3 linked regions of the Homo sapiens genome follow. The protein of the gene in region 1 purifies or fractionates together with the protein of each later gene. This does not show direct contact. Each region holds a gene or a part of one and is shown in the gene's direction. Other genes may lie near its edges.

Region 1 (7,739 bases):
TAAGTTTCCAGCTTAGGAACTTTGGGGGGTTCCTTCGAACTACAGCAACATGAAATCCCTGTCAACTTTTACTCCCTTCAGTTCCTTTTTAAGTAGTTAAATATTTTTCACATCGTTTGCTTTTACTATGAAATTTCTCCTGTTCTCTGTGTATTTATTTGTTTGTGGAACTCTCCAAAATGTCTTTGGAAAGAATGCAGCACATTGAAATTTATAATCCATTCATGGTTTAGATTCATGGTTGGTAAATAAGTGCTTTTTCTCTGCACGTGTGTGTGTGCACACCCTCCCTCACCCTCTCACTAATGCACACACACTTTTAAGTGTATGGGCCCAGGTTATGGCAATAGCTACATTTTGAAAATCAAAGGCGAGAAAAGTTAACCAAGAGTGTCACGTGATACCATGTGATGGCCACCTATGTGGCATAAGTATCAGAAAACCTCCTGCCGTGAGCAGGCCAGACACGGTGGCTCACGCCTATAATCCCAATATTTTGGGAGGCCGAGGCAGGCGGATCATTTGAGGTCAGGAGTTTAAGACCAGCCTGGCCAACATGGTGAAACCAGGTCTCTACTAAATATACAAAAATATCTGGGCATGGTGGCGGGCACCTATAGTCCCAGCTACTCAGGAGGCTGAGGCATGAGAATCGCTTGAACCTGGGAGGTGGAGGTTGCAATGAGCCTAGATGGCATCACTACACTCCAGCCTGGGCAATAGAGCAAGACTCCAACTCAAAAAAAAAAAAAAAAAAGAAAAAGAGAAACCTTGTCTCGCGTGACCCTGGCGCCTCCTGGAAGCTTGCTCATGCCCAACTGGTGAGAGGCAGGGGACCTAGCCAGGTTGTCTGTCAGCCGCTGCAGGATGTGATGGGTCATCTTGAGTTGAGCAGGCTGTGGTGGAGGCCAAGGCTGTGCCCGTTTTGTGCCTTCTCCTGCCTTCATTGTCCTTCCACAGACAAGTTTGCCTTCCCCCGGGTCTTGTGTGTCCTGGGGGCTTAGTGGTCGGTACAGTGCACGGGACCCACCACTTTACGGACCATCAGAGTCTGTCACTTCACCTGTCTTCAGAGATGGGCGTGTGCTTAGACGTTGTTTGGAACGCGTTGTTGAAGCGTACTGCACGTCGGTCATCACGGGGTGAACACGCGAAGCTGGGCGGTCCGTGTCTGCTTCATCCAGACTCCCCCAGAGTTTGCGTGTTAGCACGTGTGCCCCAGTATGCCCCTTTCTTCCCTCGGCACCCTCCCTCTGCATGTGCCTTTGTGCAGGTGTATGGATGTATGTATGCACGTGGATAGGTGTGCGTGTACATATGTAAGTGTGCGTGTGTGTCCATGTGTGTATATACATGGGCACACACATGCCTTTTAAAAGTTACAGTGCTGAACACTGCACCCAGAGAATTTGGCCTGACGTGCGCCCCATCCTCTCTATATCTCAGACTCCATGGATACCGAGGACTCGGCCTCTTCTCAGAAGTTGGATTTGTCAGGAGAAATGGTGCCTGGTCCCCTGCCAGCCCCCGGAAAGTGCAGGAAGCGAAGAATGCCTGTTGGAAGATTCCAGACGTTTTCGGACCAGGAGGGTTTGGGCTGCCCGGAGAGAACTCATGGGTCCTCCGTGCCCAAGGAGAGCCTGAGCAGACAGGACAGCTCAGAAAGCAGGAACGGGAGGACCTTGTCTCAGCCTGAGGCCTCGGAGACTGAGGAGCAGAGGTCTCGGGGTGTGACCGACACCAGAGAGGTGAGAGAAGGGCTGGGGAGCAGCAGGCCCACGGCACTGCCTCCCTAATGTGGGGCTGTTACGGCTTTGGCGGGGCCGTGATTACGCCTGCGGCACTGACTGTGTCCCTCCCTGATGCAGGGCTGTTACGGCGGTGCCGTGATTACGCCTACGGCACTGACCGTGTCCCTCCCTGATGCGGGGCTGTTACGGCTTTGGCGGTGCCGTGATTACGCCTACGGCACTGACCGTGTCCCAGGATAAAGGGAATCATCACACTTAGGGTTCCAGGGTGCTTGCTGCTGCGTTTTGTTGGACGTGTGCCTCTGTGCCACACGCTGTCCTGCGCTGCTGTTCTGAGTGGAAGCCCCGTGGTGGAGAGAGGGGACTCTGCCTTACGGTGCACAGGGCATTTGTCTCCAAAGCTGGAATCGGGCATCTTGGCCGGCTGAGCCATTGATGACCCTTTCGTGAGGGGAGGATCCTGGAGGTCGCTGTGATGAGAGACCGAGTCACTCCACCCTCAGGGTGACCTAGAGGTCAGGGGGACAACTGGCGCAGGCCCAGTCAGAGGCGTTGAGACACACCTGCTGTAGACATGAGTGCAGACCACCCAGAAGGGAACAGGCAGGGGCTGTTCACTTGGTACTTGCCACAACGAGGGCTTCAGACTCCCATGCAGGCAGAGGAGCTTGAAGGTGCGGAACTGTGGGACAGGAAGGGAGGCATGGCCGGAGCTAGAGGCAGCTCCGTAGCAGCATGGGGTGGGGGGGGGTCCCAGAGCTGGGTGGGGCGTGTTTGACGTCCCCGGCAGGTCCTGAGCTGGAAGGAGGCAGAGATGGGGGAGGTGGGCGGTCTGTTTCAGGGTTATTGTTTGACTCCGGGCCATTGCTGGGGACAGCGCCTGGCACCCTCTACCAGCCTGACTGTGGGTGCAGGCTGCTTCCTGGGCAGCTCCTTTTGAACACAGGCTCTGACTGCGGCCTGGATGTGTCTTCCGCTTCCCTGTCTGGGTTGAGGGGAGGAGTCTGGGGCCTGCTTGAGTTGGGAATGTGTGGGCCCCGTCCTGTCCTGTCATCGAGACCTCACTCATCCAGGACCGGTGCACCTGGCTAAGCCTCACTGGGCAGGCACTGCTGAGCCGCCCTCCACCTGGCTCAGGGCTGGGGCCTCAGGGCACCTGTCCTCCCCTTCGTGGTGCGAGGGCATCCCAGGGTGCGCTTGGGCACCTGCTGGCATTCAGGACCTCAGTTACTGACTCGCTGGCCTCATGCTGTTGTTTCCATCACAGCCGTCTCCCGGGTCACACTCGGCTCTACCCGGGAAGAAGACGGCCCTGCAGGCGGCGCTCCTGGAGACGCTCTTGGACCTGGTGGACAGGAGCTGGGGCGGCTGCAGGTCCCTGCACAGCAACGAGGCATTCCTTGGTGAGTCAGGGCGGCCACTGCTCTTGCCCTGTAGGCAGCGTCTGTGTGGGTTCCGGGGTCCTCTGCGTGTGGTGACCTAGGAGTCATCTCAGCCCCAGGTCTCCTATGTCCCCTCCCACGAGCGTGTGGTGGTCCCGCGCCTGGGCCCTCCCTGGCAGTCTTTGCATCTCACAGTGTCCAGGGCTCTCGGGAGACACCACATGGGCCTGGGCCTGTGGGTCCCCCGCTGTGCTCTGGGGTGTTGGGGGGCCTGTCACCTCATTTTGCTCAAAATGCTGTCCAAAGGGGCTTGGTTCTGATGGCTGTGATCACATGGGGATTTGGAGTTTGGAAGCTGCTCAGCATCTTCTCCCCCGACCCAGACGTGTAGCCTGTGCTGGGCCTGGATTGCAGAGCTTTTGGTTGGTGTGGGACCCAGGAGGGTGGTCCCTCCCCAGAGAGGACTTGGGTCTGTTGGATTCTACCAGGCAACCCGTACATGAGCACACTGGGGCCTCCCTCATCCAGGATCACACTGGGAGACCAGGAGATGCCGCGTCCCCAGGGGCACCTTCTCTTTGTCCTGCATCCTGGGGTGTGGCTGTGTGTGTCCCTCAGGAGCCTAGCCAGTGTGCTTCTCCCCGCAGACCCTGGGCACGGCTCTGAGCTGTCTGACTGCGCCTTGCAGTGTTATAGCCCCTCAGCTCCTAGAATGAGGACGCCCTGCAGTCGCAGCCCACCTGGACCCCAGCCCCATAAACCTCCCCTCTCCCTAGGCTGGTGTCCTGTGGGAGCCTCCTGAGCTTGCCATCGTCGGTGGCGGGGGGACTGTCCCAGGCCCAGGCCACTGTCCCAGTGTGGAGTTGCCAGCTGTCGTCTGCATGGTGGTTTCCACACAGGGCAGTCGGTGCTTGTGGAAGGCGCAGCGAGTTGTGGCGGCGCCACTGAAACCTTGAGACGTGGCGGCCCCTGGTTGCCCCTTTTCTTGGAGGTCACCTCTTCTCTTTCTTCAGTTCCCACCCTGCCCGTGTGTGGACGCACAGAGCCTGAGGTGGTTTTGTGGCGCCAACACCCCTTTCCCCTCTCCCTACCTGTCGTCTTTTTGAGGCATCGTCTGTGTGATTCAAAACATACTGAGCCGATTTTGTTTACATTTCATCCTTTAAGCCTAAGTGCTAATGTAATATTTGGTTTTCACTCCTAGCTCAGGCAAGACACATCTTGTCATCTGTTGAAGAATTCACAGCAGCTCAGGACAGCTCTGCGATGGTGGGTGAAGATGTCGGCTCCCTGGCTCTGGAGAGTAAGTCCCTGCAAAGCCGCCTTGCTGAGCAGCAGCAGCAGCACGCCCGGGAGATGAGCGAGGTGACGGCGGAGCTGCACCACACACACAAGGAGCTGGTGAGCCCGCCCTGGCGCTGTGTCTGTGTCCATGTGACTGGGGGAAACATGGCTCTGACTTCCAGGAACGAGGGCAGCTCCTTGATGCCACACTGTCCCAACTGCCATCTCTGCAGCCCCATGTCTCCACTCCCTGCCCGGGACCCGGCCACCCCCGGAACGCGGCCTGCCCTGTCTCACAACAGGCCTGGAGCACTTTGGAGACAGCAGTGGCGCTGGCCACCTTCTCTCCCCGGGCCCAAGGGACCCTCCACCACTGGGCAGTGCCGGGTGCTGCAGGAGCCAGGCCTGGACGTGACTTTGTCTTGCTGACCCATCTCTCAGGGCCTCGAACTGGGGAAAACCGAGGCCACTCTCCTTTTATGAAGGAGATGACGGCCAGTGTCCCATGGTGAGCTGGGGCTACAGGGCAAGTTACCCCAAAACCAGCAGCTGAAAACCTGCATTTATCACCTTGGATTTCTGTGTATTGGGCCTCAGGCTCAGCTCAGCCAGGCTCCCTCCTTCCGTCTCAGCCGTGGGCCGGGGCCGCCGTCTCATCTGAGGCCTCATGGGGGCTCTGTCTCAGCCGTGGGCTGGGGCCACCGTCTCATCTGAGGCCTCACGGGACAGGATCCTCCCAGGCTCCCTCCACGCTGCAAGGGCCTCCCCACGGGCTGCTGGCATCCTTAGCACAGGGAGCTGGTGGTCAGAGAGCCACACCCAGGCAGAAGCCGCCCTCCGGGAGTCCTGGTGTGAGGGCAGAGCCACGTGAGGATGTGCACATCCAGAGGGGCCTTGTCAGCATCTTTAAATTGCGAGTGAAGTCGGCCCGGGACGGCTTCGAAAACTGCCTCTGAACTTGTCTGACAAGTACATACTGTCCGTTTCATGGGAACCAACATCTCAGAGATCCCACACAACGCTTCCTCTTTAGAGAAGAAAAACACAGCAAAACAACACAGGCAGCCTCTGTTTAAACGCACGTGGCCCCCCCACCCCGCCTGGAAGCCTCTGCACGTGGCCTTCATCTGGAAGCCTCTGTATTTAAACACATGTGGGCCTCCTCCATCTGGAAGCCTCTGTATTTAAACACACGTGGGTCCCCATCCCCCGTCCAGAAGTCTCTGCATTTAAACACACATGGCCCCCCATCCCCCATCCAGAAGCCTGTGCATTTAAGCACACGTGGTCCCCCGTCTAGAAGCCTGTGCATTTAAGCACACGTGGTCCCCGGTCCAGAAGCCTCTGCATTTAAGCACACGTGGTCCCCCGTCCAGAAGCCTGTGCATTTAAACACACGTGGTCCCCCGTCCAGAAGCCTGTGCATTTAAACACACGTGGTCCCCCGTCCAGAAGCCTCTGCATTTGAACACACGTGGTCCCCCGTCTAGAAGCCTGTGCATTTAAGCACACGTGGTCCCCCGTCTAGAAGCCTGTGCATTTAAACACACGTGGTCCCCCGTCTAGAAGCCTCTGCATTTAAGCACACGTGGTCCCCCGTCCAGAAGCCTGTGCATTTAAACACACGTGGTCCCCCGTCCAGAAGCCTCTGCATTTGAACACACGTGGTCCCCCGTCTAGAAGCCTCTGCATTTAAACACACGTGGTCCCCCATCTAGAAGCCTCTGCATTTAAGCACACGTGGTCCCCCGTCCAGAAGCCTCTGCTTTTAAACCAACGTGGCCCCTCCTCTGGAAGCCTCTGTATTTAAACACACATGGCCCCTCATCTGGTGGAAGCCTCTGGATTTAAGCACACATGGCCCCTTCTCTGGAAGCCTCTATATTTAAACACGTGTGGCCCCCCGTCTGGAAGCCTTTATACTGAAACACACGTGACCGGCTGTCTGGAAAGTGAGCTGGGCGCCGTCACTGATGATGTCTTTTCTGTGGGACACAGTCAGGCACACCCCTTGCCCTTCTGAGCCTGGGACGAGACAGAGCTGACAGGCGGAGCCCAAAGGTGTGCCGAGCACCAGTGCTGCCAGGGGTGAGAGTCACATGCAGCTGTGGCTGCCGTGGACGCCTGCTTTTTTGCCCTCTGCAGTTTGCCTAACCCCTGCAGTTTGCAGGCAGCCCTGGGCCTCTGGACAGAGCAGCCCTGGTTCCCTGTCAGGGTGAGTGATCCAGAAGAATCTGGCAGCCCGAGCCCCGCGGGTAAGGAGCAGTCAGCACCGTCAGGAACCCCGCGGAGGGAGCAGCCGTGCAGGCTGGTGGGCACTGCTTTCCAGGGAGGCCCACATCTGTCACTCCAGAAGCACCCAAGTTTACTCTGCCACGTGAGGACGCTCATCCCTCGGTCACATGAACCTAGACCTTGCTTCCTTTGGAAGCTGCAGTCGGGTGTCCTGAGGCAAGGTGGCCCCACTTCCAGCTGCTGTGCCTGGCACGGCCTCTGAGGCAGATGGGCTGCGCCCAGCTTGGGTGCAGTCGGTCCTCTGTTCCCTGCACCTGTCGTGGCCTAGACTCCAAAAAATAAAAAATTAGGTGTGGTGGCACACTCCTGTCATCCCAGCTATTTTGGGAGGTAGAGGCAGGAGGCTCAGGAGTTGGGGGCTGCAGTGAGCTGTGATTGCTCCACTGCCCTCTAGTTTGTGCGACAGAGGGAGACTTTGCCTCAAAGAAACAAATGAAAAAGAGCTGGGAGCTCACAGCCCTGCCTTAAGAGCTCACCGCATCCTTGGGAGGCAAAACCATGAGACGTGGCACTGCCAGGAGCTTTCTGGACGACCCAAAGCCCCGCGCGGAGGGCAGGTCATGCTGGTTGGCGCCACTGCAGCAGACACCTTGGGGAGAAGTCCGCGAAATGAAGAACGGGCCAAGATAAGCCTGAGGGGAATGGTCTCAGACCCAGCGATCAGCTTTCACCATGGGCGTCGGGGGCCTGGCGGGTGCATGCATGCTGAGGGGGCTGTCGGCGGGTGGGCTCACTGAGCGGAGAAGGATGAAGCGGCGATACCCCCAGCACGAGGCTTCTGCTGCACAGACTCAGGCGCTCCCTCCCCTGGTGGCAGTGAGCTGGGGCCTGCTCAGCACCCCCGGCCCCAGGATGTGCCTGCTGGTGCCTGAGAGAGCAGCAGCCAGGTGAGACGGGATCCCTGGGGACCCTGGCCGCAGGTGCTGGCGGCTTGGATGGCTCACACCTCACCAGACACCCTGGGGCCAGGGAGGGGCAGAGGCTGCCGTGTAGCTGCAGGCGTGGCCCTTTCCCCTCCTCGATGACA
Region 2 (7,739 bases), about 79 Mb from region 1:
AAACTGTCATCTCTGTTGAGCACCATCGCAGTTTAGTTCTTTCAGCCTTCCAGCTCTTTTCCTACTCCTAGTTGTGCCAGGTGTTCTGCAGAGTCCTAAAATTCTCAGGCTTCTCAGAGAAATAAGACTATGGATTTCTGCTTGTTCAGTCAAGCAATGCAGCCAGACTGCAGAGTACCTTCAGGCAAAAAGATGTGGAAATCACCCAAAGTGACTGCTTTCTTGCAGTCTTTTGCCCAATTTGGTTACTCACCAGGTCCTTCAAACAGTTGACTTTTACATTTTGCCCACAATTTGCAATTGTTACCTATAGGAAAGTTACTCCAATAAAAACTATTTCATCATTATCAGAATTGGAACTCCCTTTAAGGAATTTATTATATAATGAGACAAAACAAATACACATTAAACAATAAGTGAAATAATTCCCAAGATTTTTGAACAGATGCTTGGTTTTGTGAACCAGAGGAGAGCCTTGAAGACTTGAGCAGATAGGAATGGCTTTCTGGAGAAAGCACATGCTGAGCTAAGAGTTAAGGGTTCGGTTAGGTCCGAGTGGTTTTCAGAGGCAAGAGAGGACATTCTAGTTAAATCAACAAGTTGGGAATGAATATCACTTGTTCTTAGGACAAGGAGATTTGCCTGCTTTTAGTTGGAAGTACTCACTGAGTATCTTGGGCAGTGTGGATGGTTGAGAAGGTTGGGGCCAATATACAGAGGATCTGAGCGTTTAGATCTGATACCGTAAAAAAGATGAGCTGCTGAAAGTCTTTGAATGGTGGAATCACAGGAATGAAAGATGAATCTTAGCAATTTGCAGAATAGACAAAAAAAAGATTATAATTAAGTCCACTGGGAGGCTGTTGGTTTTGTTCAGGTCTGGATGATAAGGGTTTGTAACGAGGCTATTAGTACATGAGAAGAAAGGAAGAAAATTATATAAGAGAGAGAATCACAGAATGTAGAGGGTAATTTGATATTTGGAAAATGCCAGGGAGAGGGATTTACTCTGTTTCTTTAATAGTCTAGAATTTACTATCTTCTAGTAAACCAAAATTTTATGAGCACATGATATATGTAAAGAACTGTGATAGGGTGTGTGTGTGCATGTGTGTGTGTGTGTGTGTGTGTATTTATATTGACTTCTGTCTATTGCTGATTCTAGTTTTAGATGGTATAACTTGAAGGACAGTGCCCCTCTCTGTTCTCTCAAAAAATACCAAGTGCTCATTAAAAGTTATATTACTCTTTGGGCCCCCAGTAAATTCTTATTGACTAACAAAATTTTATCTTACCCGTAAGAGACACTGTTGATGTAAAGTCATTCCAGTATCTAATGATTTAAGTTGTATTTTAAGCCTATTTTCTCTTCCAGATTCTCTTACATGTTGGAAATGTATTTGAAAAAATTCTCACTTCTGCAAGGCCAGTTTTCAGAACCCATATTGAATTTGAAGGCTACAGATGAAGGACAGATGGTCATATCTGATCTTGAATATGTTTTTGGAAGAAATTTTTACAGAAGACTTTCATTATAGGGATTCTCTACTGTCATTAATCACTTAATTTAAGTTATCCTAACCTTTCTATGACTAAGCCATGTAAATGATTATTTTTCCCTTTTCCTAGTTTTATATCTTTGAAGAATCTATTCACTCTACCTTGAGTGTCTTAATATTTCTCAAAATTAATTTTTATATATTTATTCAGAATATACTATTCACTTATTTGGGGCTATGTATTTAGCAAGAAACTCTTTAAAGTTGAAATTTAAGTTAATCTGTGTTCTCATTTAATTTTAGGTGACTGAACTTGAATGTGTTAGTAGCCAAGCAAATGCAGTACATACTCATAAGACAGAATTAAATCAGACAATACAAGAACTGGAAGAGACACTGAAACTGAAGGAAGAGGTATTTGCTGCTTTTTACTCATCTGTAATCTAGCTAACATGTTTGTACAAAGTATTAGATTCCATGTCAAATTTAAAAGTATTTTATGGAATAAAGTCAGGTTGTGACCTCTTTTTTAGGATGAAATTTTTCTTGAGTGGTATTAAGCTTGCTCATATTTTCTCTATCCTTATTTCTGTTATTATGAACTGTGGTGAGGCAGTCAGACCGAGATACCACCTGTTGCCTTCCAGATGAGAGTTGCATTTATACAGTCAACAGAAAATCATTAGGGGTTAAATGGATTTTAAAAGCTGTTGGTTTCTCTGGGTTCCAGTCAAAACTTTAATATCTTAGGAAAGAATTATATCCACAAAGCTTGAAGCAACATTAAAATGTTCAGGTTGTTATTTCTAAGCATTGCTGTACCAGAAGCACCAAGTTAGACTTGTTGCTGTTGCTTAAGATTATTGTTCTAGACAACATACATATAAAGATGAATTCATCCCTCTAAAAGTCAATATGAAGGAATGTTTTTAAAATCATCTTTTTCTAAGAACTAGAACAATAATTTCAGGGAAAAACAAGACCTTCCCTTGCCTTGATATAGTTTGAATGTTAAGACATTGCTCTGTCTTTTCTAGGAAATAGAAAGGTTAAAACAAGAAATTGATAATGCCAGAGAACTACAAGAACAGAGGGATTCTTTGACTCAGAAACTACAGGTGAGCTGTAGTAAAAATTGTTATTCACTTCTGCATAGAAAGGCATCATTTTTTCACATAGCACTGACTTTTTTTCTGAGACTCCATTTTGTAGGTTTTTGGTCATTTTTCTTTTCCGGGACTTCTGATTCATGCCTAATCTTTGATTTTTAAAAAGTTACTTGATAACTTCATCTATGTAGCTTATAATTATCATAGATGGTCATTTATAAATTGTAAATTATTTAGTAAATCCTTTTGGAAATTTCTACTTTTAATTAAAAAAAAATACTCTGGGTTTGGGCATGGTGGCTCATACTTGTAATTTCAGCACTTTGGGATGCTGAGGAGGAGGATCACTTGAGCCCAGGAGGTTGAGGCTGCAATGAGTCATAATCACACCACTATACTGCAGCCTGGAACAGAGTGGGATCCTGTCTTAATAAAAAGAAAGAGAGAGAGAAAGAAAGAAAACCCTGAATTTAAAGAAAAATTTGCAAATTGATTTCATTCAATTTGGGAACATTATTATTATTATTATTATTATTTTACAATGTACTAATGTATGAATTATACCAATAGTTGTGCCCTAATGGAACACAAGTTAGTACTTTTCGTTCTTCAGTGTAATTAATTTTACTCACTTTTTTCTGCATAAATAGTATTCTTCCTGATTCCAGTGTACAAAAAACATCATGTGTCAGTGATAGTCAGACATGGTAAGGGAAGATTTCTCAGAATTTATTACCAAAGTCTTCTCTTGCCAGCTCAGGCAGTTTTCTTACACCCTCAGCGTTAGGTGCCTCAATAAAGAAGGGTTAGGATGACTTTGGAGTAGAAATAAGTATATGTATAGAGTGAGGAATCTGAGATAAGGCATAATAAGAGGGACCTGAAAGCCCAGGATTGGAAAGAGGACCTAGATTATAATAAGAACAGCCAACATTTATTGAGTGCTTGCAACATATCGGACACTGGGCTTAGCACTTTACCTGTATTATGCATTTAATCCATGTAACAGTCATAATAACCCAGATGAAGAAACTGAAGCTTGGAGAGGTTAACTTGTCCAACCTATATTTAAATGGAGACAGTCAAATTTTAAAATCCAAATCTTTGACCACTAAGATAATGGTCAAAATACATTATTTTAGTAGTCAAAGACATGGGCTTTAAACCCCTTCATAATAATCCTTCATGAAATAAACAGATTCCTTATATAAAATGGAATATTTACCTCTCCCCTTCCCATCACTGGCTTTCAGTAGTCTGGGAAAAATGAGATCACTTGTTTTGGTTGGCCCTATTAAATGCCGTTTGTATATTTTAGTCGTCTATATAGATTAGTGGTCATCAACTTGGGGCACTTTTGAAGCCCAGGGGACATTTAGCAATGTGTGCAAACATTTTTTATTTTCACAATTAGTGGAGCGCCACTGATATCTAGTAGACAAAGCCAGAGATGCTGCTAAGAATCAGATTATCCAACCCAAAATGTCAATAATGCCAAGGTTGAGAAATCCTGATGTAGAACTTAAATATGAAGCATGGAATCAGGGCTGGAAGAAAGGGGGAAATTCAGTCAAGTTTTGTCTTTCGTTTGTTTTGGGTTTCGGGTACTTGCGATGATTCAAGCATATGTTAAGCACTTAACTTACATTAGCTCTAATTCTCACAGTAGCAGGTGAGGTATCCCCATTTTCAAAGAGAAGACAGCAGTTCAAAGGTGTTAACAAGTTTAATTAAGGCACTTAGCTAGAAAGTAATGAGGCCTAGATTTATTTTATTCCAAAGTCCGTTCTTTCTGCATTACCACACTTCTTCAAGCAACAAACAGTCAAGTCATCCTTAATGATTCTTTTAAAAAGTATTTTCAGTTATATACACATTTACATTGTCTCACTTATGAAGAGAAACAAAGAGATGATATATTTATATCAAATTTCTAATGTTGATAATTCTAAATGTATTTGAAGCCAGGCATAGTTGCTTATGCCTATAATCCCAGTGCTTTGGGAGGTTGAGGCAGGAAGATCTCTTGAGGCCAGGAGTTCAAGGCCAACCTGGGCAACATAGCGAAATGCTGCATCTACAAAAAAATGAAACAGTAGAATTAGCTGGGAGTGGTGGTGTGCACCTGTAGTCCCAGCTGCTTGGATCACTTGAGCCTCGCTTGAGTTGGGAGTTGCAGTGAGCTATGATCACACCACTGCACTCCAGCCTGGGTGACAGAATGAGACCCTTTCTCAATAAATGTATGAATGAATGGATTTCATCATTGATAGAGCAGTAATTGAATTTTATAGCTGGCACTTGAAATTGTGAATATAATTCTTACCCATCCTTTCACTGAATATCAAAAATATTATCAAAACAACCTACCTAGAACAGGACAGGGAAGCTTTTAGAAAACCTGAGGATGAATTCTAAAAGAACAAGCTACAGAAAATAACATATTTTTTCCAATTCAAAGAAATTTCCTCCTCTGCAGCCTTCTCCCTCCCACAGAAACATCTCCTGTTTATCAAAGGTCCCAGCACCCTTGAACTCCATTCATAAGTTCAGTACAGAAAATTGGGATCATTAAATTCCTTGGAAAAGAATCCTGAAATTGCAGTATTTAGAGTTGGATTAGTATTTAGAGTTGAATGTGGATAGAAAATGTATAGTTATTGGTAAATTAAGGATACCGTGCTACAGTTTTTCTAATTTATGAGTTTTTGATATTTGGCAATATTTGGATATTTCTGTTATAAATGTCTATGAAAAACATGCCCATTGTAAAAAAAATTAGAAAAATTTCAAAAAATGTACTTAGCAAGGTTAGTATAAAATCATAATTCCATAATATTAAAAAAATCATAATCCTGTCATCTTAAGGCAAGGTAACTGGCATTTCCTTGTCCCAGTGTTGGTTTAGATAATATTTTCTTTATAAGAGATGGATATAGATACCATTTTTTGTTTGTATACATTTTTATCTAACTTTATGTCATAAGCCCAATGGCTGCATAGAATTCTCCCATATAGAGGTATCATAGTTTTCTTCCAGCATTCCTATAGTAATGGCAGTTTATGTTGTTTCCAGTGTTATGCTATAAATAAATAATATTACAACCTTTTTCATAAATCTTTGCCTTTCTGATTATTTCTTTAAGATAAACTTTCAAACAAGAATTGCTTGGTGTCAATGTTTTAAAATTTCTTATGCTGGGAAATTGACATCTGGAAAAGCAGGGTACCCACTGGATATTGGTACCCCCTGGACCCGTTCTTTGCCATCTCTTAAGAAATGAAGTGACTCAACTATTTAGTTAATTTTTAAATTATGAATAACATTGAACAATTTTTCACATGCATTTAGTCTTTACCTGTATCTTGAAGTCACGAGTGCATTTTCACCTTAGAGCATGTGGAATATCTTTGCCTGGAATTCTTTGCCCAAATCTTCAGATGGCTGGCTTCTATTTTTAGTTTAGGTCTTAGTTCAGATGTTAATTTCTCTGACTTCCCAATTTAAGGACTATGCTACAGTCCCCACACCCCATCCCAGGTATTTTTTGTAGTATTACCATTTTTTATTTTCCTTTTAGTACTTATCACTAGCTGAAATGATCTTGTTTTTTATTTCTATTTTGTTTTTAAGCTATTTATTTTTATTTCAATAGGTTTTTGGGAACAGGCAGTGTTTGGTTACATAAATAAGTTCTTTAGTTAAACTTTTTATTTTGAAATAATTTCAGTCTTACAGAAAAGTTGCAAGAATAATACAGAAATTTTTTATATACCCTTTACTTACATTCCCCAAATGTCATTTTGGCTATATTTGCTTTGTTTTATTCTGGATGGCTCTCTTCTCTCTCTCTCTCTCTCTCTCTCTCTCTCTCTCCCTTTCCCTTCTTTTCCCTCCCTCCCTCGTAAGACAGTGGTAAGTATTCATGTATTTGTATCTAAGCACATCTAAACACAGAAAAGGTAGAGTAAAAATACAGTAGAAACGATAGAAAAGGTACAGTAAAAATACAGTAGAAAAGGTAAAAATTGTACACTTGAATAGGACACTTATCATGAATGGAACTGTAGGACTGGAAGTTGCTCTGGGTGGGTCAGTGAGTGAGTGGTGAGTGAATTTGAAGACCTAAGATATTACCATACACTGCTGTAGACTTTATCAACACTGCACTTAGACTACACTACATTTATTTTTTAAAATGTTATTTCTTCAATAATAAATTAGCCTTAGCTTACTGTAACATTTTAACTTCATAAACATTTAAAATTTTTTTAACTTTTTACTTTTTTGTAATAGCTGCAAACATAAACATGTATTCAGCTGTAGAAAACTATTTTCTTTATATCCTTAGTCTGTAACCTTTCTTCCTATTAAAAAATGTTTTTAAAACTTTTTAAACTTCTTTTAAAAAACGAAGACACAAACACACATATTAGCTGATGCCTACACAAGGTTGGGATCATCAATATCACTGTTTTCTACCTCCACATCTTGTCCCACTAGAAGGTCTTCAAGGGCAATAACAGGCATGGAGCTGTCATCTCCTATGATAACAATGCCTTCTTCTGGAATACCCCCTGAAGGACCTGCCTGGGGCTGTCAGATAATTAATGTTTTTTTAAATAAGTAGAAGGAGTACACTCTAAAATAACTTGAATAGTAATAAATAGTATAGTATAATAAATATATAAACCAGTGACATGGCCATTTATTTTTATTAAGTATTATGTACTATACATAATTGTATGTGCTATGCATTTATACAGCTGACAGCACGGTAGATTTATTTATATCGGCATCACCACAAACACATGAGTACGGCATTGTGCTGTGATGATATGGCAGCTGCTGGGTGATAGGAGTTTTTCAGCTCCCTTATAATCTTATGGGACCACTGTTGCATATGCTGTTCATGGTTGATCAAAACATTGTCATGCATTGTCATGCTGTGCATGACTGTATTCAATGGGAAGTCTTATACTTCTTATTTGATATACTTGTTCTTTCTCATTGTCTTTTTTGATTACCTAAAGTTAGTAGTGATGTGTCTACTTTGTGAAGTTTCTTTTTCTTTTCTTTTTTTTTTTTGAGACAGAGTCTCACTCTGTTGCCCAGGCTGGAATGCAGTGG
Region 3 (7,739 bases), on another chromosome or scaffold:
TGTTTTTTCAGCACCAAATGTATGTTCCATGATTGTAGATATACTCAGCAGCCTCAAGGCTATTGTAAAGCAGGGCTGAGCTTGCCTTACAATGTTAATTGCACCAAAAAAACAACTTCTCTGCTGAAAGTTAAGCAGGTGAAGCTCTGGGCAAGGATACAGCTGGATGACGAAATTCAGGGCATTGCTGAGCTGCTTTTCAGGTGCCCAATCTTTAACCTTCTTGATATTGAATTGGCTAAATCAAAATAAGTGCCCAAGACTGCCCTTTCCCTAAGTTGAAAGTCATCTCACCAAGGAACTGCAGTGTGACATTTTGATTTGTTGAGCCTTTGTTGATTCTTAGATTGTCTATGTAAATAACCACTTTGACCTTGACTCCTTACTGTTTTTCTTATAGCATATGAAGGAACTGAGAATACTAGTATTGAAATAGCTGCCTTTGGCTGTGGAACTGGTGACTGTTGCATTTGTTTTTTAACTTTCATGTATAAACATTTATTTTAAGTCACATTTCCATAGATGGTTTTCCTTACTTCATTCACATATCATCAGTTTTCTTAGTTTTGTTACTCTGCTCAGCCACACAAGGGGAATAAACTTTTTACAAGAGCCAGAATTCCCAAGTGCAGTAGTTAATAAGAAGGAACATATGGTGTGCAGGTTACTCAATCACATCTTATCTTTGGCACCTGCCTCCGTCCTGTAACTTGCGATGCTCTGGGGGCCAGATCATGTTATGTGGCTATGATATATTTAATTATAGTGTCCTTTTTCATAAGTTGACATCAAGTGAACCCAGCAAGCCAAAAATCTCTATAAGAAGTAATTTGGGAAATGGGAAGGTAAGTTCCACAGGGAATGAGGTAGTACTAGCTGAAAGGGATTTCTTCCTTGTGTTCTTGAAAATGAGTGATAGGAGTGTTGGCGCACAGCAGGGAAAACAAGGCAGGAGAGGATTTATTTCAGAAATATTAAAACTTTCTGACAATAAGGCTGCAAGCCCAAGAACCTCAACTAGATTGTGCTTACATCAGTATCAGTAATGACCGTGTTCAAACAGACCCTTTATTGCTTTTGGCAAACATATCCACCTTCCACTGGCTTTGTTGCTGTCAGGAGAGAATGAGTTGAGCCATGTTAGCACTTCTTGTCCTGAATTGTTTAAGCTCTTGATTTGGTTAATTATAGAGTACTAAAATGGAATGTTTTGGATAAAGACATGGGAATGTGGTAGCAGTATGACTCCTTTTGCCTGTTACAAGAGTACTGCTCTGAAAAGTGTTCAGTAAGGCAATTGGCAGTTGGTCTGTAATAATAGTTACCAATAATTAGCCTTTTTTTTTTTTTTTTTTTTTTTGAGACAGAGTTTTACTCTTGGTGCCCAGGCTGGAGTGCAATGGTGCAATCTCAGCTCACCGCAACCTCCGCCTCCCGGGTTCAAGCGATTCCCCTGCCTCAGCTTCCTGAGTAGCTGGGATTACAGGCATGCACCACCATGCCCGGCTAATTTTCTATTTTCAGTAGAGATGAAGTTTCTCCATGTTGGTCAGGCTGCTTTCAAACTCCCGACCTCAGGTGACCTGCCTGCCTCGGCCTCCCAAAGTGCTGGGATTACAGATGTGAGCCATTAGCCTTTTATGTGCCAGGAGTTGTCATAGGGGTTCTGTAATCCTCACAACCATACTATGAGATGTAGGTGGCATTATTTCCATTTTATAGATGCAGAAATGAGATCCTGGGAGGTTAAGTGCCTTGCCCAAGGTTATACATCTAGAAAGTGTCAGAGGTAGAACTTAAATCCAGGGCTGTCCGTCTCCAAAGCCCATGTCCTTTTCATTATGCCACAGTGATTCTAACTTCTTAGATGCTGAGTTCTTGCTTTCTCCCAGAGGTCTTTTAGAATACTAAGTGAACTCTAAGGCGTGTCTGTCTGGCTAAGGCTTAGGTCATCCCAAGACCAAAGTAAGGCAGGTCTGAGTTAGAGCTTTAGGAAGAGGATGGGAGAAAATTGTACAAATGTAGAACTTGAAAGAATTGTAAATTTAGAAGAGGAGAATAAAAGCATCTTATACAGAAAAGCATTTCAAGATCAATGATGCAGCTTCACACTGGTAATTTACTGATAATCTGAGAAATTTATCCATATTTTAAAAGTTATAAATAAATTTGGAGTACCTGAGGAATATACCCTTTCTTCCTGTTCAGCTAACACTTTTTCCCTATTCTTTAAGCCTCACCATCTCTATGAGTCAATCTTTGATAAGAGCTTTTGAAAATTGCAAAGGGAAGAATATTCCTACTGTATACCAGGCATTGTACTTAGAGCTTTACATATACTGTTTTATTTAATTCTTTTTTTTTTTTTTTTTTTTTTTGAGACCAAGTCTCGCTCTGTCACCCAAGCTGGAGTGCAGTGGCGATCTCGGCTCACTGAAACCTCCGCCTCCTGGGTTCAAGCGATTCTCCTGTCTTGCCCTCCTGAGTAGCTGGGACTACAGGTGTGTGCCACCACACCCGGCTGATTTTTTTAATTTTTAGTAGAGACTGGGTTTCACCAAGTTAGCCAGGGTGGTCTCGATCTTCTGACCTCGTGATCCACCCGCCTCAGCCTCCCAAAGTGCTGGGATTACAGGCATGAGCCACCGCGCCCGGCTATTTAATTCTTTTAAGAGGCCTCGAAGATAGCTAGTGTTCTCCTTGTTTTATTGAAGAAACTGAGTGTCGAAGAGATTAAGGAATTTGTCTCAAGGTTACACGGTAATGTGATGGAACTAACAGAGCCCTAAACTGTTGCTTTTCAATTCAAATAGTACTCTGTTCGAAACTCAGGATGAACCTTCTAAATCTTTTTTTTTTTTTTTTTGAGATGGAGTCTTGCTTTGTTGCCCAGGCTGGAGTGCAGTGGTGCGGTCTTGGCTCACTGCAACTTCTGCCTCCCGGGTTCAAGTGATTCTTCTGCCTCAGCCTCCCGAGTAGCTGGGACTACAGGTGCACGCCACCACGCCTGGCTAATTTTTGTATTTTTAGTAGAGACGAGGTTTCACCATATTGTCTAGGCTGGTCGTGAACTTCTGACCTCGTGATCCACCTGCCTCAGCCTCCCAAAGTGCTGGGATTACAGGCGTCAGCCACCACGCCTGGCCCTAAATCTTAATCTGTGTTTTTTGGGTAGTTTTTTTGTTATTGCACTGACAGTTTCTTTTTATTTATTGCGTGGTTGAAGGTCTTACCGTGTGTTTTTGTGAGCATTTATTTTCTGAGAAAGCAGCCTGAGGTGGGCAGATCATGAGGTCAAGAGATCAAGACCATCCTGGCCAATGTGGTGAAACCCTGTCTCCACTAAAAATACAAAAAATTAGCTGGGCATGGTGGTGCACTCCTACAGTTCCAGCTACTCAGGAGGCTGAGGCAGGAGAATCACTTGAATGCTTGAATGCGGGAAGTGGAGGTTGCAGTGAGCCGAGATCATGCCACCGCGCTTCAGCCTGGCGACAGAATGAGACTCTGTCTCAAAAAAAAGAAAAAAAAAAGCTGCTTTAGGAGCTGAAGTTGCAGTTGTGTGTTTGATGTCTTGAGGAAGACAATTACTACTACTACTACTACTAGTACTACCTACATTCTCAGTATCCAGTTAATTGAAGAAATCGATAGTTCATTAAAAAGGGAGAGTGAGTTTATTATATCATTTCCTTGGAAGTGATTCCCTCCCCCACGAGAGAAAAAAAGTTTGTTGTAATCTTTATTCAGACCCTTTGTCAAGTTTATAAAGAATATGCAGTTTGTTTCATGGTGGTTTTTGTTTAAATAATTTAGAGAGGTACAACTGAGGCAGATGGGAAGAGAACAATCTTGGCAGTTGCCCTGATCCACTGCCCTGCTGTCATGTTTAGGTGGTAGACACAATTAGAGGAGCTGAAATTCCATTCACCCAACAAGAGGTTTAGTAAACTTGATCAGATTTCTATGGAATTTGTAGGAGCTTTTTATAGTCTGAATGACCTATGGCCTGCGATTTGGTGAGAGCAGAGCAGAAAGCGGCAGTGGATTGACGTTTCTTCTGTAACAGTTCCCAACTCTAAAATTACTTTGATTAAATTAGATGATTATTTGTATGGGTTTCAGTCTCCCTTTTCCCCAGCTGTATCGTGCAACAGTTCAGTTAGCTATTTCCCTCTTGGACGCTTGCACTAAAAGCTGGTGATTTTATTTTCTTTTTTTTTTTCAAGGGTCTATCAGTAGAAATCTATTGGTTTGGGGCACCTAGTTCTTAGCTTAGAACCTATATAAAGGAAGGGTATTTGAACTGCTGATTGAGTTTCTCTGAGTATAGGACTTTAGCCTTTCTGAATGTTGCAAACCTGAGGCTAAAACTAGCTTCATCTTCTCTGCACACACTTACATTCTACAGTGCTCCAAGGTGAAACTTCATCTATTGACTACCTTTTCTTGGAAACTCTTCTCTTGGCTTCAGTGTCACTTATAATTGCTACCATTTACTGAATACTTACTCCGTGTCAGGAATCTCTGTCTTAGTATTTAATCCTCATGACAACTTTATCAGATGTGTAGTACTATCTTTATATTATGGATAAGAAAATATAGGCTCAAAGAGAGTAATTAACTTGTCCAAGGCTTTGTCAATGAAATGCTGGCCATAGCAATATTGGGCAGCTTTGCCTCTGTGCCAACACCCGTGCTGCTCTGACCAGACTCCCACTGAAGTCTGCTTAAGCTGCTGCTAAGACCACTTTGGATCTCACAATCTAGCCTCTTTCAAGGGGAGGCCTAAACACCATGCCTCACATCCCTGTTTGTTTCAGTCACTACCCGCCATCCGCCATCCATTATCTTCCCAATACTAATTCCTTTACCACTCTCTTCATCCTTCAGCTGATTCAGTCCCTCAAACTGTTCCACCATGTTCTTTACAATATCCCCCTCCTTGATCAGCAGATTCACATGTAGTATCAGTCTCTAGCAGCAAGATCAAGTTATAAGGGCAACAGTGGCAAGTGTTAGCACTTAGTATCCAGAACTGTGATGGTGCAAACCAAGCTGCAGCATCTCCTGCTTGGCATTAGCAATCACATCTTTGCCAACCCAGTTCTGTAATTTTGAGTGTTGTTTTAGCTGTGTAGCACTTAAGTTCTTCACTGAAAAAGTGACCTCATATCCTTTCTGTAAATTCTTTTTCTGTTTAATTCAGCCAGTGTTGACTTCTGCTGCTTGTAGAACTTGGAGTGATGTACGGGTTGAACCTAACCATCTACCTTCTTAGTTGCTGGCACTCATGGAGCTGAGAGTTGCTAGAGAAAATCAGCAAATTAGACAGATCAGTGTCATTAAAAATTTATAATCATCTATTTCATATGCATAATCAGCATTACCTAGCAATGTTATACATTTCTCTAGTTCACTTTCCAGCTCACTGCGAATTATTTCTTCATATTGTCTCTTTCTCTTTTCTTTTTTACTGAGACAAGGTCTCCCTCTCTCACCCAGGCTGGAGTGCAGTGGTACAGTCACAGCTCACTGTAGCCTCAAACTCCCTGGTTCAAGCAATCCTCCTGTCTCAGCCTCCTGAGTAGCCAGAACTACAAGTGTGCTACCACGCCTGGCTATTTTTTTATTTTTTTGTAGAGACGGTATCTTGCCATGTTGCAGGTCTCCAATTCTCGGGCTCAAGTGATCCTCCTGTCTCACCCTTCCAAAGTGCTGGGATTATAGGCATTAGCCACTGTGCCTGGCCTACTGTCTCTATTTCTTTTTCTCTTTTTTTGAGATGGAATCTTGCTCTGTCCCCAGGCTGGAGTGCAGTGGCGCGATCTCCGCTCACTGCAACCTCCGCCTCCCGGGTTCAAGCGATTCTCCTGCCTCAGCCTCATGAGTAGCTGGGACTACAGGCACGCACTACCACGCCCAGCTAATTTTTGTATTGTTAGTAGAGATGGCGTTTCACCGTGTTCGCCAGAATGGCTCAATCTCCTGACCTCGTGATCCGCCCTCCTCAGCCTCCCAAAGTGCTGAGATTATGGGCATGAGCCACCGTGCCCAGCTCTTATTTCTAATCTCTCATATTTTCTTCTTTTTTAACCAGTCATAGGCTTTATGCCTCATTATAAAAATGGAAGCTGCTGAATGGGAATTCCTTCATTCTTTTACCTCCCAAGTCTACAAACCTATGTGCATCTGGGACTCATCTTTTTCTCCTTCATTCTGTCAAGACCAATCCCTTCACAGGTGCTGTAATCATTCTTTTCTCCCCCTCCCCCCTTCCTCCTCCTTTCTTTTTCTATCTTTCTTCTCTCTCTTTCTCTTTGTTTTCATTCATTTTTCTTCAAGAGATGAAGTCTCACTCTGTAGCCCAGGCAGGAGTGCAGTGGTGTGGTCATAGCTCATTGCACCCTCAACCTCCTGAGCTCAATAGAACCTCCCTTCTCAGCCTCCCGAGTAGCTGGGACTATAGGTGCATGCCACCATACCTGGCTAATTTTTTTATGACTTTCTTGTAGAGATGGGGTCTCTTTTTTCCCCCTAGATGGAGCCTTACTCTGTCACCCAGGCTGGACTGCAGTGGCACTATCTCGGCTCACTGCAACCTCCGCCTCGTGAGTTCAAGCAATTCTGCTGCCTCGGCCTCTCAAGTAGCTGGGATTACAGGCATCCGCCACTGTGCCTGGCTAATTTTTGTATTTTTAGTAGAGACGGGGTTTCACCAGGTTGGCCAGGCTGGTCTGGAACTCCTGACCTTGTGATCTGCCCACTTTGGCCTCTCAAAGTGCTGGGATTACAGGCGCGAGCCCACACCTGGCCAAGATGGGGTCTCTTGCTATGTTGCCTAGGCTGGTCTTGAACTCCCAGCTTCAAGTGATCCTTCCTCCTTGGCCTTTGAAAGTACTGGGATTATAAGCATGAGCCGCTGCACCCAGCCACATTTTAAAAACTTTTTGTAGAGATGGTGTCTCACTTTGTTGCCCAGGCTGGCCTCGAATTCCTCGCTTCAAGCAGTCCTTCTGCCTCACCCTCCCAAAGTGCTGGGATTACAGGTGTGAGCCACTGTGCTTGGCCTCTCCTGTCTTAAAGAATTTCTTCCTTTGGTTTATTTCATCTTTCTACTAGGTCTTTTCCTTCAGAATTCACACTTGCCCTATTGTCTCCCATTTTGAAAACCCTGTCCTTTGACCTGCATATTTTCTGTTGCTGTCATGTTTTTCTATTCTCTTTCACAGGCATGCTTCTTAAAGGAGTTTTCAGTACATGCTATATGTGCTTTTTTCCTCTCATGAATTCCTTAACTCACTCCTGCTATAATATTCTGTTTAACCAAAACAAAACCCTCTTGCTAAAGTTGTTGATGTCCATTAGATTGGGAAACATGGGGGTCTTTTTTTTCAGTCCTCATCTTCTTGGACCTCTTAGCAGCATTTGACATTGACTCCTTGTGAAACACTCTTTTCCCTTGGCTTCTGTGACACCGATCTTTACTAGCTTCCATCTTATTTCTCTAGCTGCTCCTTCTCATTCTTCTTCTTTTTTTTTTTTTGAGGCAGATCTCACTGTGTTGCTCAGGCTGGAGTGCAATAGTATGATCACTGTAAACTTGAACTCCTGGGCTCAAGAGAGGCTTCCACCTCTGAACCTAAAGGACTAGGATTACAGACATGTGCCACCTCATCCAGCCTCCTTCTCATTCTTCTTCTTCTTCTTTCTCTTGAGACAGGGTCTCACTGTGTCAC

Evidence for each region. Proteins that work in one complex are often made in the same cells at the same time.
Region 2: the proteins of CEP72 (region 1) and HOMER1 purify together in Homo sapiens (affinity purification with mass spectrometry; 2 studies listed by BioGRID and IntAct, with this or other methods). This does not show direct contact.
Region 3: the proteins of CEP72 (region 1) and AHCYL2 purify together in Homo sapiens (co-immunoprecipitation; 3 studies listed by BioGRID and IntAct, with this or other methods). This does not show direct contact.

What each region holds. Positions count from the first base shown.
Region 1 is NC_000005.10:636,071-643,809, forward strand, and holds part of CEP72 (centrosomal protein of 72 kDa), read left to right. Parts: intron 1-1,446; coding exon 1,447-1,748; intron 1,749-3,018; coding exon 3,019-3,154; intron 3,155-4,337; coding exon 4,338-4,534; intron 4,535-7,739. UniProt on the Homo sapiens protein: Involved in the recruitment of key centrosomal proteins to the centrosome.
Region 2 is NC_000005.10:79,391,701-79,399,439, reverse strand, and holds part of HOMER1 (homer protein homolog 1), read left to right. Parts: intron 1-1,802; coding exon 1,803-1,913; intron 1,914-2,536; coding exon 2,537-2,617; intron 2,618-7,739. UniProt on the Homo sapiens protein: Postsynaptic density scaffolding protein. Binds and cross-links cytoplasmic regions of GRM1, GRM5, ITPR1, DNM3, RYR1, RYR2, SHANK1 and SHANK3.
Region 3 is NC_000007.14:129,227,725-129,235,463, forward strand, and holds part of AHCYL2 (adenosylhomocysteinase 3), read left to right. Parts: intron 1-7,739. UniProt on the Homo sapiens protein: May regulate the electrogenic sodium/bicarbonate cotransporter SLC4A4 activity and Mg(2+)-sensitivity. On the contrary of its homolog AHCYL1, does not regulate ITPR1 sensitivity to inositol 1,4,5-trisphosphate.